Homo sapiens: one gene and its partners. The protein of the gene in region 1 interacts with the protein of each later gene in a biochemical or structural test. Each region holds a gene or a part of one and is shown on either strand. Other genes may lie near its edges. The genes, in order: FAT1, APBA3 and RAPGEF6.

What was found.
Region 2: the proteins of FAT1 (region 1) and APBA3 interact in a test that uses a peptide from one of them, tested with the Homo sapiens proteins (one large-scale study listed by IntAct).
Region 3: the proteins of FAT1 (region 1) and RAPGEF6 interact in a test that uses a peptide from one of them, tested with the Homo sapiens proteins (one large-scale study listed by IntAct).

Annotation. Positions count from the first base shown.
Region 1 is NC_000004.12:186,591,230-186,594,881, forward strand, and holds part of FAT1 (protocadherin Fat 1 isoform 1 precursor), read right to left. Parts: intron 1-3,652.
Region 2 is NC_000019.10:3,751,693-3,755,344, reverse strand, and holds part of APBA3 (amyloid-beta A4 precursor protein-binding family A member 3), read left to right. Parts: intron 1-1,004; coding exon 1,005-1,150; intron 1,151-1,239; coding exon 1,240-1,326; intron 1,327-1,418; coding exon 1,419-1,580; intron 1,581-2,354; coding exon 2,355-2,525; intron 2,526-2,624; coding exon 2,625-2,837; intron 2,838-3,652. UniProt on the Homo sapiens protein: May modulate processing of the amyloid-beta precursor protein (APP) and hence formation of APP-beta. May enhance the activity of HIF1A in macrophages by inhibiting the activity of HIF1AN.
Region 3 is NC_000005.10:131,460,644-131,464,295, forward strand, and holds part of RAPGEF6 (rap guanine nucleotide exchange factor 6), read right to left. Parts: intron 3,639-3,652; coding exon 3,398-3,638; coding exon of another isoform or gene 3,394-3,397; exon of another isoform or gene 2,970-3,393; intron 1,446-2,969; coding exon 1,062-1,445; intron 1-1,061. UniProt on the Homo sapiens protein: Guanine nucleotide exchange factor (GEF) for Rap1A, Rap2A and M-Ras GTPases. Does not interact with cAMP.

The DNA of each region.
Region 1 (3,652 bases):
GTGAAAGTAGACATCACAGCAGAAAAACGGTCACATCCGTGATTTTTTAAACAAGGCTTTCTATGCATTCAACAGTGTTATAATTTGGGACAAATATTTGATTGATAGTTCACTTCTAGAAATTTCAGTAATTTTAAAAGACTGTGGTGTCTCTAAAACATGAATACGCCGGCATTTAGGTAACATGTATCTACAGAATCATTTTTAAGTCTAGTAACAAAAGCAGCAATTCCTTTAAACAAAAAAAGATCAACAACTTTTGTTACGTAGGCACTAGTAATAGCTTTCAACTTTAAATTCCATGTGCACTTCTTGGATATGCCAAAAAATATTTGTCAATGAAGGAGACTGCAATGAAGGAACTGTTGAAATTCTGCTTCTATAAGCTTCAATAATATTTAAAATGCTGAAGGTCATCAGTTTAACACTAAAACTTCACTAGACAAAATACAGGTATGTTTCTGATTTGCCCAGTGAAAACATGGTACTTCTTAGGAAAAGAAGTGTAGGCGTCATCAGTAACTATAACCATGAACACTGGAGTATCTAAGCCTCTTCTGCCTGATAGCAAATGGGGCCCAGAGCTATCCTCCCTCCTCCTGAACCTTGACAGCATCATGTCCTAGCATAAAGGATCCCCCGAACTCTATGATGACGTCTGTGTACTCGATGGCCTCTGTAAGCAGTTCTCGAGTGGGATCTCTAGACCGGCACCATCAGAGCTACCTGGGAACTGGTGAAAAATGCAAATTCTAAAGTCCCAACCCAGACCTGTTGGATCAGAAATGCTGGTGCTGAGAACCAGCAATTGGGCTTTTAACAGCCCTCCAGATGATCTGATTCACATTACAGTTTGAAAAGTACTAGCCTGTGTCTTCCCCATGTGATGAATTTCAGTGCACTAATAAAGGGCTATTTTAATTTAAAATAATTTGGGGAAGGTGCTCAATGTCCTTTCTTACAACTCTGAGCAGATAAAGCTTCACATTAAATAATTTTCACTAAACCAAATATGAAAATATTCTTTTACCATGCTCTACACCCTTTTCTTTGATCATACTCAGGGAAAAACCAAAAGTGAAGAGTCAGTTACAGGTTAATTATGAAAGCTTTACATTATTCAAGTCTTATTCCTGTACATACGAAGAAGAATTTTTGTTTCAAAAAAATTTTAGGTAAAATTACTTCTGAACTTTTTCTTGATTGCACCACCTACAGATAAGCTCTCCAGATCTCATGTAAATCACTATGAATGGTAAAAAGGAACAAAGACATAACATACATTGAGATATTTTTTGCAAAGCACTCATATTACGTATATACACACCTGCATAAAATAAAAGGACTCAACCCCCTCAAAACCACAAACTGTTTTTTCCTACCATTGCAATAGCAATGCGGCCGAGCTCTACGACACGGCTGCTGCAAGACACAGACACAAGCACGAGCACTTACAACTGTACCTTCTGTGCTCACCGTGTCAACCACAGCATTGACAAGGTGCATTACGGTCACTATGGAAGCTTGCAAAAAGGTACAAAAGCAGTCAATTAGGAACATCTTCAGTTAGTTAGAAAACAGTGCATGAAATAAAGTTTTGTATTATACCATTTCTACCTCAGATTCCAACCGATGAGTGCTTTAATACAACCACATAATGATGCGTGGTCTCCTCACTGTTAGCTGTGTGTCTCAGAGACTTTTTTAATCGAGCTATATATTTGTTATTATTAATCAAAGGAATAACGTAAACATATTTTATTGGAATTTAAACAAAAAAACTTTTAGCTTTAAATTTTTTCACAATTACAATTATGCATCATGCCAGGCCAAAACGATTCTTATTTTAACATCTTACAGGCAAGACTCGACATTCCAAGACTACAGTCTGTGGTTCGCCACTCTTCCGGCTGCTTAATCACTCACACATTGTCCCCCAAAAAAAAGAAATTGAAGGAGAAACATATGCAATCTAAAACAAGAATGTTTTTGTCCCTGTTCTGATTGCTTTCCCTGCAAATTTCTCGTCTGTTTGCAGATGGACTAATCGCTGGTGAGCTAATGTACGAGTATAGGAGGAGACTCTGTCCGTCTGTTTCCTGTGTAAATTCCCTTTTCATTTGTGTATCAGATTGTTTTAAAATAACTATGCCAAGGTAAATATGTACGCATGTGGTAGGCAGAAGGCTGGCCCTCAAATAGTCCACGTCCTAATCCCAGGAGCCTGTGAATATGTCACTATACATGGCAAAAGGGACTTTGTTGACGCGGTTCAGATAAGGAAATTGAGATGAGGGATTTCCCTGGATTACCTGGGTGGGCCCAGTGTAATCATAAGGGTAACTTTTCTGCACAGAGGCGTTCCCAGTTACGGCTGGGGGGAGCTCTGCTGACAGAAGGGTGGTCAATGAAACACTGTGTTGCTGTCTCTGAGATGGAAGAAACCAAGAGCCAAAGAATGTGGGCAGCCTCTAAAAACCAGGAAAGGAAGGAAAACAGGTTCTTCCCTCGAGCTGCAGAAGGCAATGCAGCCCTACTGATCGCATGACTTAAGCCCTGTGAGACACAGGGGTTGGGCTTCTAAGCTACAGAATGACAGCAACACAAGTCTACATTGTTTTAGGCCACAAAGTTTGTGGTAATCTGTAATGGCCCTGGAAAACCGGGAATACGACGCAGGAACAGACTCTCAGCAGACTTTCAGTTTACAACTGATAATTACATTATGGTAATGAGTAAAATAAAAACACTCCTGTATATATGTTTTTTCTCTGCATTGTACTATCTGGAAGCTAGTTTTCATAACTAATTTGACCATAACTTATTGAAAGCACTTGGGACTATTTTTTTTTTTGAGACAGAGTCTCGCTCTGTCGCCCAGGCTGGAGTGCAGTGGCGTGACCTCAGCTCACTGCAAGCTACAACTCCCGGGCTCAGGCCATTCTCCTGCCTCAGCCTCCCCAGTAGCTGGGAGTACAGGTGCCCACCACCACGCCCGGCTGATTTTTTTTATATTTTTAGTAGAGACGGGGTTTCACTGCCAGGACGGTCTCGATCTCCCAACCTTGTGATCCGCCCGCCTTCACCTCCCAAAGTGCTGGGATTACAGGCGTGAGCCACTGCGCCCGGCCACCTGGGACTATTATTAAGAAGACTGATGTTCCAACAACAAGAACTAGAAAGAAAATGCTGATAAAATTCTGAAATGTATTTATAAAGAGCATTTAGGGGCCAAGATATAAATTATTACATAAACTGGAAACAGGAACTTCTTAGAATTAAAATTGATAAAAGACATAATTCTATCTTGTTGGTTTAACAAGCAAAGCTATGTCCATACACCCTATTCCTAATCAACACAGGTATATTTTGATACCATATATACGGTATCAAAATATACCTGTGTTGATTAGGAATAGAGTGTGTATATATATATATACTTGAAAGTATATATATATATATATATATATACTTGAAATCAGAAATGATAGCACATACTTATAGCTATCTTTAGTTTGAAAAATGACTGCAATAGATAATGACTATATGGATTTATGGACTATATGATGTATTATGGACTATATTACTCTGGATTGAATAATTATTAGTGGGGTTACCTTTTCCCACCAATAAAATATTTGAAATGTATAAC
Region 2 (3,652 bases), on another chromosome or scaffold:
AGCTGCCTGACGCGATTGTGATTAAGATGTTCTGGAATCACGGAGCAGAGAAGTCTGATTCTAGAGTGATAATAAGATTCTAAAACTCCTGACAGAATTGCTATGAGACCTGTCAGAGAGTTCTGGAATCAAGGGTCAGAACCAGCTGGGGTTCTGGAGAGTATGGGAATTTTAGACAGGCAGCAGGGTCTGTCTCTGTTCTGAGTGGTTCTACAACCCGGGAACAGAGCTGCCTGCTATCCTGGGCTGACTGCAGACGGTTCTAGAACAGTGGGCAGAGCTGGCCAGTTCTAGATTGATGGAGGGAATTCCAGAACCAAGAAGCAGGGGTCCACTGTGGTTCTAGAATGTTGTGGAGGTTTCGAAATTGGAGTGGGGGGTGGAGCGTCGTGGCTCACGCCTGTCATCCCAGTACTTTAGGAGGCCAAGGCGGGTGGATCACTTGAGGTCGGGAGTTTGAGACCAGCCTGGCCAACGTGGCGAAACCCCGTCTCTACTAAAAATACAAAAACTAGCCAGGCGTGGTGGTGGGCGCCTGTAATCCCAGCTACTCATGAGACTGAGGCAGGAGAATCGTTTGAACCCAGGAAGCGGAGGTTGCAGTGAGCTGAGATCACACCACCGAGCTCCAGCCTGGGCGACAGAGCGAGACCGTGTCTCAAAAAAGCAGGAGTGGGACTGTCTGGTTCCGGCCTGATCATGGAATTCTGGGGACACGGGGTGAAGGTATCTGTGGGTGCTAGATCTGGCTTTGAATCCAGCCATGGCCTGGACTCACTGGTTTCCCACCTGCGAGTCCTTGAGGGATGGACAGAAGGTTCTAGACCTGTGAGGGCCAGGCTGCTTGGATGGTTCTAGAACAGTGGGCTGTGCTTCCTGGCTGGAGAGTGCTAAGCCACCAGCTAGAACACTGTGTCTCCCGGCCATCTCGGAGAGCGTAGCCCTGGGGCAGAGCCTGTGGGAGTGGGCCCCTGGGGGCCGACCCTCTTCGCTGTCGCCCTCAGTGCCTGGTCCCTGTGACCATGAAGACCTCCTGGACGGTGTCATATTTGGGGCCAGGTACCTGGGGTCCACCCAGCTGGTGTCGGAACGGAACCCGCCCACCAGCACGCGCATGGCCCAGGCCCGGGAGGCCATGGACCGCGTCAAGGTGAGGGGGCGGCCGGGGCCGGGCGGGCAGGCGGGTGGGCTGCAGGCTGGGTCTGTGGGGGCCTCCACCTCCCACGCCGCCACCCACAGGCCCCCGATGGGGAGACCCAGCCCATGACGGAGGTGGACCTGTTCGTCTCCACCAAGAGGATCAAGGTCTTGACAGCGGACTCCCAGGTACGGGGCAGGGACCCGCCCCAGGGATGCGGGTGGGGTGATCGAGCCTGGCACGGCCCCCCAACCCACCCAGGCTGCCTCTCCCGCCCCAGGAGGCCATGATGGACCACGCCCTGCATACCATCTCCTACACAGCCGACATCGGCTGCGTGCTGGTGCTGATGGCGCGGCGGCGGCTGGCACGGAGGCCGGCACCCCAGGACCACGGCCGCCGCCTCTACAAGATGCTCTGCCACGTATTCTACGCGGAGGACGTGAGCAGCCAGGGCGCGGGGCCACCCTCCTGAGGCCCTCCTCACTGCAACTGTCGCCTCCCTCAGTGGGCCGTGCATTTAACCTCCCTCCCATAAGCTTATTTTTAAATTCTTTTTTTGGGACAAGGTCTCCTTCTGTCACCCAGGCTGGAGTGCAGTGGCGCAATCATAGTTCACTGCAGCCTCAACCTTCCAGGCTCAAGCGATCCTCCCACTTCAGCCTCTCTAGTAGCTGGGACCACCGGGGTATCACCATGCCTGGCTAATTTTTGTATTTTTTATAGAGACACGGTCTCGCTCTGTTGCCCAGGTGAACACGGTCTCAAACTCCTGGGCTCAAGCGATCCACCCACCTCAGCCTCCCAAAGTGCTGCAATTACAGGCGTGAGCCACCGCGTCCAGCCTCCTATAAGACTCCAAGACTCTCGGCCGACTCCCCGAAACCTTGCCCGCTCCTGGGCTGTCCCTGCCACCCATGAGGCCCCAGGCCCCCTGGCTGGGTCTTTGATAGCTTTTCCCACAGCCCATGCGCAGGGAGCTGCCTCCCTCATCGTCCCCCCAGCCCAGGGCTGCCCCTCCCCTTCCTTCTCCCCGTAGATTCCCCAAGATGCGGCTGTCTCTCCACCTCCCCCAAAGCCCCAGGGCAGAAGGCTGTGTCCTGGGACTCTCACCCCAGGTGGGGACAGGAGGGCTCAGCTCTGAGGACCCTGGGGACTTTGGGGACCTGGAGGAGGTGGGTGGGACACCCCAGGGACGCGCCACTCCTCCCCGCAGGCCCAGCTCATCGCCCAGGCCATTGGCCAGGCCTTCGCCGCCGCCTACAGCCAGTTCCTACGGGAAAGCGGTATTGACCCCAGCCAGGTGGGCGTGCACCCGAGCCCAGGCGCCTGCCACCTCCATAATGGGGACCTGGACCACTTCTCCAACAGTGACAACTGCCGGGAGGTGAGTGAGGTGCTGGGCAGCCCCCACCTGGTGCCCCCCACACCCGTGCACCTGCACCGGGCCCTGCTGAGCAGCCTCCGCGCCCCCTGTGTGTCCCAGGTGCACCTCGAGAAGCGGCGAGGGGAGGGCCTGGGCGTGGCCCTGGTGGAGTCGGGCTGGGGCTCCCTGCTGCCCACAGCCGTCATCGCCAACCTGCTGCACGGGGGGCCTGCTGAGCGCTCGGGGGCCCTCAGCATCGGGGACCGCCTGACCGCCATCAACGGGACCAGCCTGGTGGGGCTGCCCCTGGCTGCGTGCCAGGCCGCTGTCCGCGTGAGTTTCCTGGTGTGGCAGGGCCCCCACACTCCCAGGAAGGGGAGCTGAGTCCCAGAGAGGTCTCCTCCCTGGCCAGGTCTCTCCAGCCCAGCCAGGAGGGACAAAGTCGAACTTTTAAGTCCTGCCCACTGGTGTGCCCTTGGGGAAACTGAGGCCTGGAGAAGGGAGGCCACTTGTCCAGGGCACCTCCCTAGTACCAGAGCCAGGATGGAAATGCGGGTGGCCCAGCTCCAGGGCTGGGCCACTCTCTCTCTCTAACAAGAAACAGCTAATTTCTGGGGGGGTTTGTTTGTTTGAGACAAGGTCTCACTCTTGCCCAGGCTGGAGTGCAGCGGTGCACCTGGCTCATTGCAGCCTTGACCTTCTGGGCTCAAGCAAATCTCCTTCCTCAGCCTCCCGAGTAGCTGGGACCACAGGTGTGCACCACCACGCCCAGTTTATTGTTTTATTTTTTGTAGAGATGGAGTCTCACTATGTTGGTTGGCCAGGCTGGTCTTGAGCTCCTGGCCTCAAGTGATCCACCTGCCTCGGCCTCCCACAGTGCTGGGATTACAGGTGTGAGCCACTGCACCTGGCCATGTTTTTGAGTCTCAACCTTTGTTGCTCAGATGGGGAAACTGAGGCCCAGAGATAGGGAGGGACCTGCCCCCGTCAGAGGAATGAGGCCACAGTCCGTGCAGCCTCTTACAGATGTTTGCAGCCTGCCTGGAGAGCCCGGCTGTCGGCTTGGCTTTTGGCCATAAGGAAGCGATATGGCTCGGGTCAGACAGCTTCGACCCCATGCCCACCGGGCCCGAGTCTGTTCTCTATCA
Region 3 (3,652 bases), on another chromosome or scaffold:
ACTGACACATTGCTACTATATGGGAGAGGCAGGATTCAAATACAGGTGCAGCTGATTCTAAAGACCACTCTGTTAATCTCTATTCAATACTCCTAGAGTGTTCAGTTCAGTTGTAGACACTGGTTAATTTAATAAAGGCACATCCTATTACCATGACAGGGTCATGAATAAAGAGTCCCTATAAAGATTCTACTTTTTAATCTTAATCTACATGAGGAGTAGAAACAAATCATTATGAATTCTGTGGGGGATGTGTATAGGTAGGATTAGTTCAAGTGGAATTATGCTGCGATTTATAAGCACATCATGGCCTTAAAAATGGAGCTAACTACAACTCCTCTCCCTTTTAAAATTAAACTTGTTTTAAGAAGAATCCCTTTGTTGATCTACAGTGTGCTAAATAAAGATCAGAAAATAAATTACCTACAATTAACTTTTCATAATAAGTGGGAAGAAGGGAGTGGGAGAGCTCACGTAATTATCTACACTTCCTGGGCTTATGAATGTCAAAACATTTTTATTATTCTAACAGCCTAACTTGCTTGAGGAACACCACATCCAGTGAACCTCATGTAGTGCCTGGCAAACAGGAAGAGCTTACCAAATGGTTGCCATTATTATCAATGTTGTTGTTTCAAAATAGCAACTTTAGGTCAAAGTACTGATACCATACTGTGATTTTTCAGAGTCAAATCATAGTGAGGCAGGTACTTAAAAAAGCACAGTACAGAAGTCTAATGATAAAGACCAGCCACTGGGCACATATCCAAAGATGATATAATCACTCAAGGCGGGGGGTTGGAGATGAAGGGAGAGAAAGAAAAATTAGAAGGCAATCACCCACTTTCATTTACAAAAAAGAAGTAAAAGAAAGATGGAAGAAACAAAAATAGAAAAAGCCAATACCACCAAAATGGAAAATACATTAAATCTAACAACACTTCAATAAAGGCATATTAATTGAACATTTCTTTTCATAGGCATTGAATACCTAAGTAGAAAATCAGCTGCATGTAATGACAAAACCATACAGACATTTGTACCTATTTGTACCAACTTACCTTATTATTGCAAACATGGAATTGAAGTTCTTACATTCTCGACAATGAAGTGCAATTTTAATAAAATGCTTAATAATCTTCATTCGTTTGAGCTGATTTGCTTCAGTTAAAATTTCTGAGGCAACCCAGAATGTCTCTTGGTTTACAATGTCCTCAAACCTCTTCAAATGAGTATTTCCTGTTTTGGAATTTAACTTAAAAAGGTCATCGATGTACTCAGTCGGTTCAATATTACGAAACAAATCAAAGTCCCTCATTGACAGCTGGGTGGCCACCTCAATGGTACTGAGCTGCAGCATGGATAGCTGGCTTTCCTTAACTAGTTCTTGAGCATCTTCATCTGAACATAAGGTTTCTGTTTCCATGTTATTTTTTAAGTAATACCTAAATGGAAAAATTTTTTTAAATAAATGTATTCATAAATATGATTAAATAAGAGCACTTTTCCTTTTTGTCGTTGTAAAATATCATTTTACTGTTAATAACTTTTAGCCAAAAATATTAATTTACAGATAAAATGAAAAGTTAACATTTTAAATGAAAAGATTTTTGAGAAGTCTGTCTCTTATTCTACCAACTGGCATCTATTAAAGAGTAAAAATAATGTTGTTATGTCATGAACTTAATTATTTTATGAAACTATCTGTCAGATACTATTTTAGGTACTGGCCTTGCCCTCGTAAAGCTTTTATCTTACTGTTTTATCTGACAGAGGATTGGTACTATGTAAATATTTGTTTATGAATAGCATGAATTCTAATTAAGGCAAAATAAATTCCTGAATCAAGACGGTTAAAAATCTCTATTCAGAAGTTACTCCACTCACTTCCTTTTTAAATAAATTTCCAAGTGAAGCAAGAGGAATGAAATCTACAGAGGAGGGGAAACACTTCCACTAATGGTTTCTCCCTTGTTAAATACAAAACCTCATTCCAGCAAGTGGCACTTATCAGTTACCACACATTAAGACCTATATTTTGCTTTCTTCTCTTAAATCAACAATTCTACAGCACTTAAAAGTAAGAGACAGGAAACATCTTGTGCAGGGATGTTACTAAGGAAACGAGGTAATGTATCACCTGCTTTTACTTCGTTCTTTTCTAATAATCCAACTTGATTTAAGCCTAAGTTTGTATCCATCTATCCATCTATTTTTTACTGTCAAGAAACTCTTTTTTCTGCTTTTAGACTGTTCATATGCCTAAGACAATGCCATAAATAATAGTGCTGAAACTCATTATGCTATATATAATAATGTTTAACATTATAAGGTATGGTATACTTAGTAACTCATTTAATCCTTACAACATTCCCATGAGGTATATTCTACTATTACTATCCTCATTTTATGGGTGAGGAAATTCAGGTAGAGAAGCTACATATGACTTGCTCAAGGTCACATAGCCAGAGCTGGGATTTGAATGTGGGCAATCTGAATCCAGGGTCTATGCTCTTAACCACTATGTACAGCCAGCAAAACAGAGTTAACTCATTCTCATTTCACAGCAACCATGGCATGCAGTCACTGTAAGCTTTCTAGGGATCTTGTTCTACATATGAAACTGGGTTACCAAAAAGATTATTCTCAGAGTGGTTGAGTGTGGTAGCTCACACTCGTAATGCCAGCACTTTGGGAGGCTGAGGCAGGCAGATCACTTGAGGTAAGGAGTTTGAGACCAGCCTGGCCAACACGGTGAAACCTCGTCTCTACTAAAAATACAAAAATTCGCCAGGCATGGTGGCATGTGCCTGTAGTCCCAGCTACTCAGAAGGCTGAGGCAGGAGAACCGCTTGAACCTGGGAGGTGGAGGTTGCAGTGAGCTGAGATCGCGCCACTGCACTCCAGCCTGGGCGACAGAGGGAGACTCCATCTCAAAAAAAAAAAAAAAAACCAGAGTAAGGAACAAATGTACTACAGAAATAATCTAGTTTATTAAATAATTTTCAGAACACATTTTAAAATTTTTAAAATTTTCCTGCATATTCATTAAAGGAAAACTACTTAGAAAAAGAACTGTGAAAACCATGGCTTCTTTTGCCAAAGTACATACTGGCCATATTAAAAACAAATTTATAAATTAGTAGATACAGTCATTCAGATATATATGAAGATTTGTATCATTCAGCTTCCTCTATAAAAAAACAGGAACTAGATTATATCAGTGGTTCTAAGAGTTTATTTTAGCAGGAGTGACAAGATATTTTATCAAGCGTCTTCTGGAGTGAATTTAGGAGCACTAAAACATGATAATGTTTCTACTTACAATAGCTGTTTTAACAGGAAATCTTCAAAAGCACATCTACAAATAAGCACATCCACTAATAAGCTTATTCACCTTCCATTGAGTTGAATTCTATCAGCTAATTTGGAGAACTGATCTGGAAGTCTTCTCTGTTTTATGACACCCTCAGGAGTAACAGAAACTTCACAGAGAGAATATGTGTCGGATGCACCGGTCAAACCAAATTCATGAACAGCATGAAAAACTACTTCTTTAGCTGTGGTGTCTTTACTGATGATAATGTAGCAACTTTGCTGATCCACTTTGAAAACTCTTATAACTTGATCAGGGATATCTACATAAATAGAA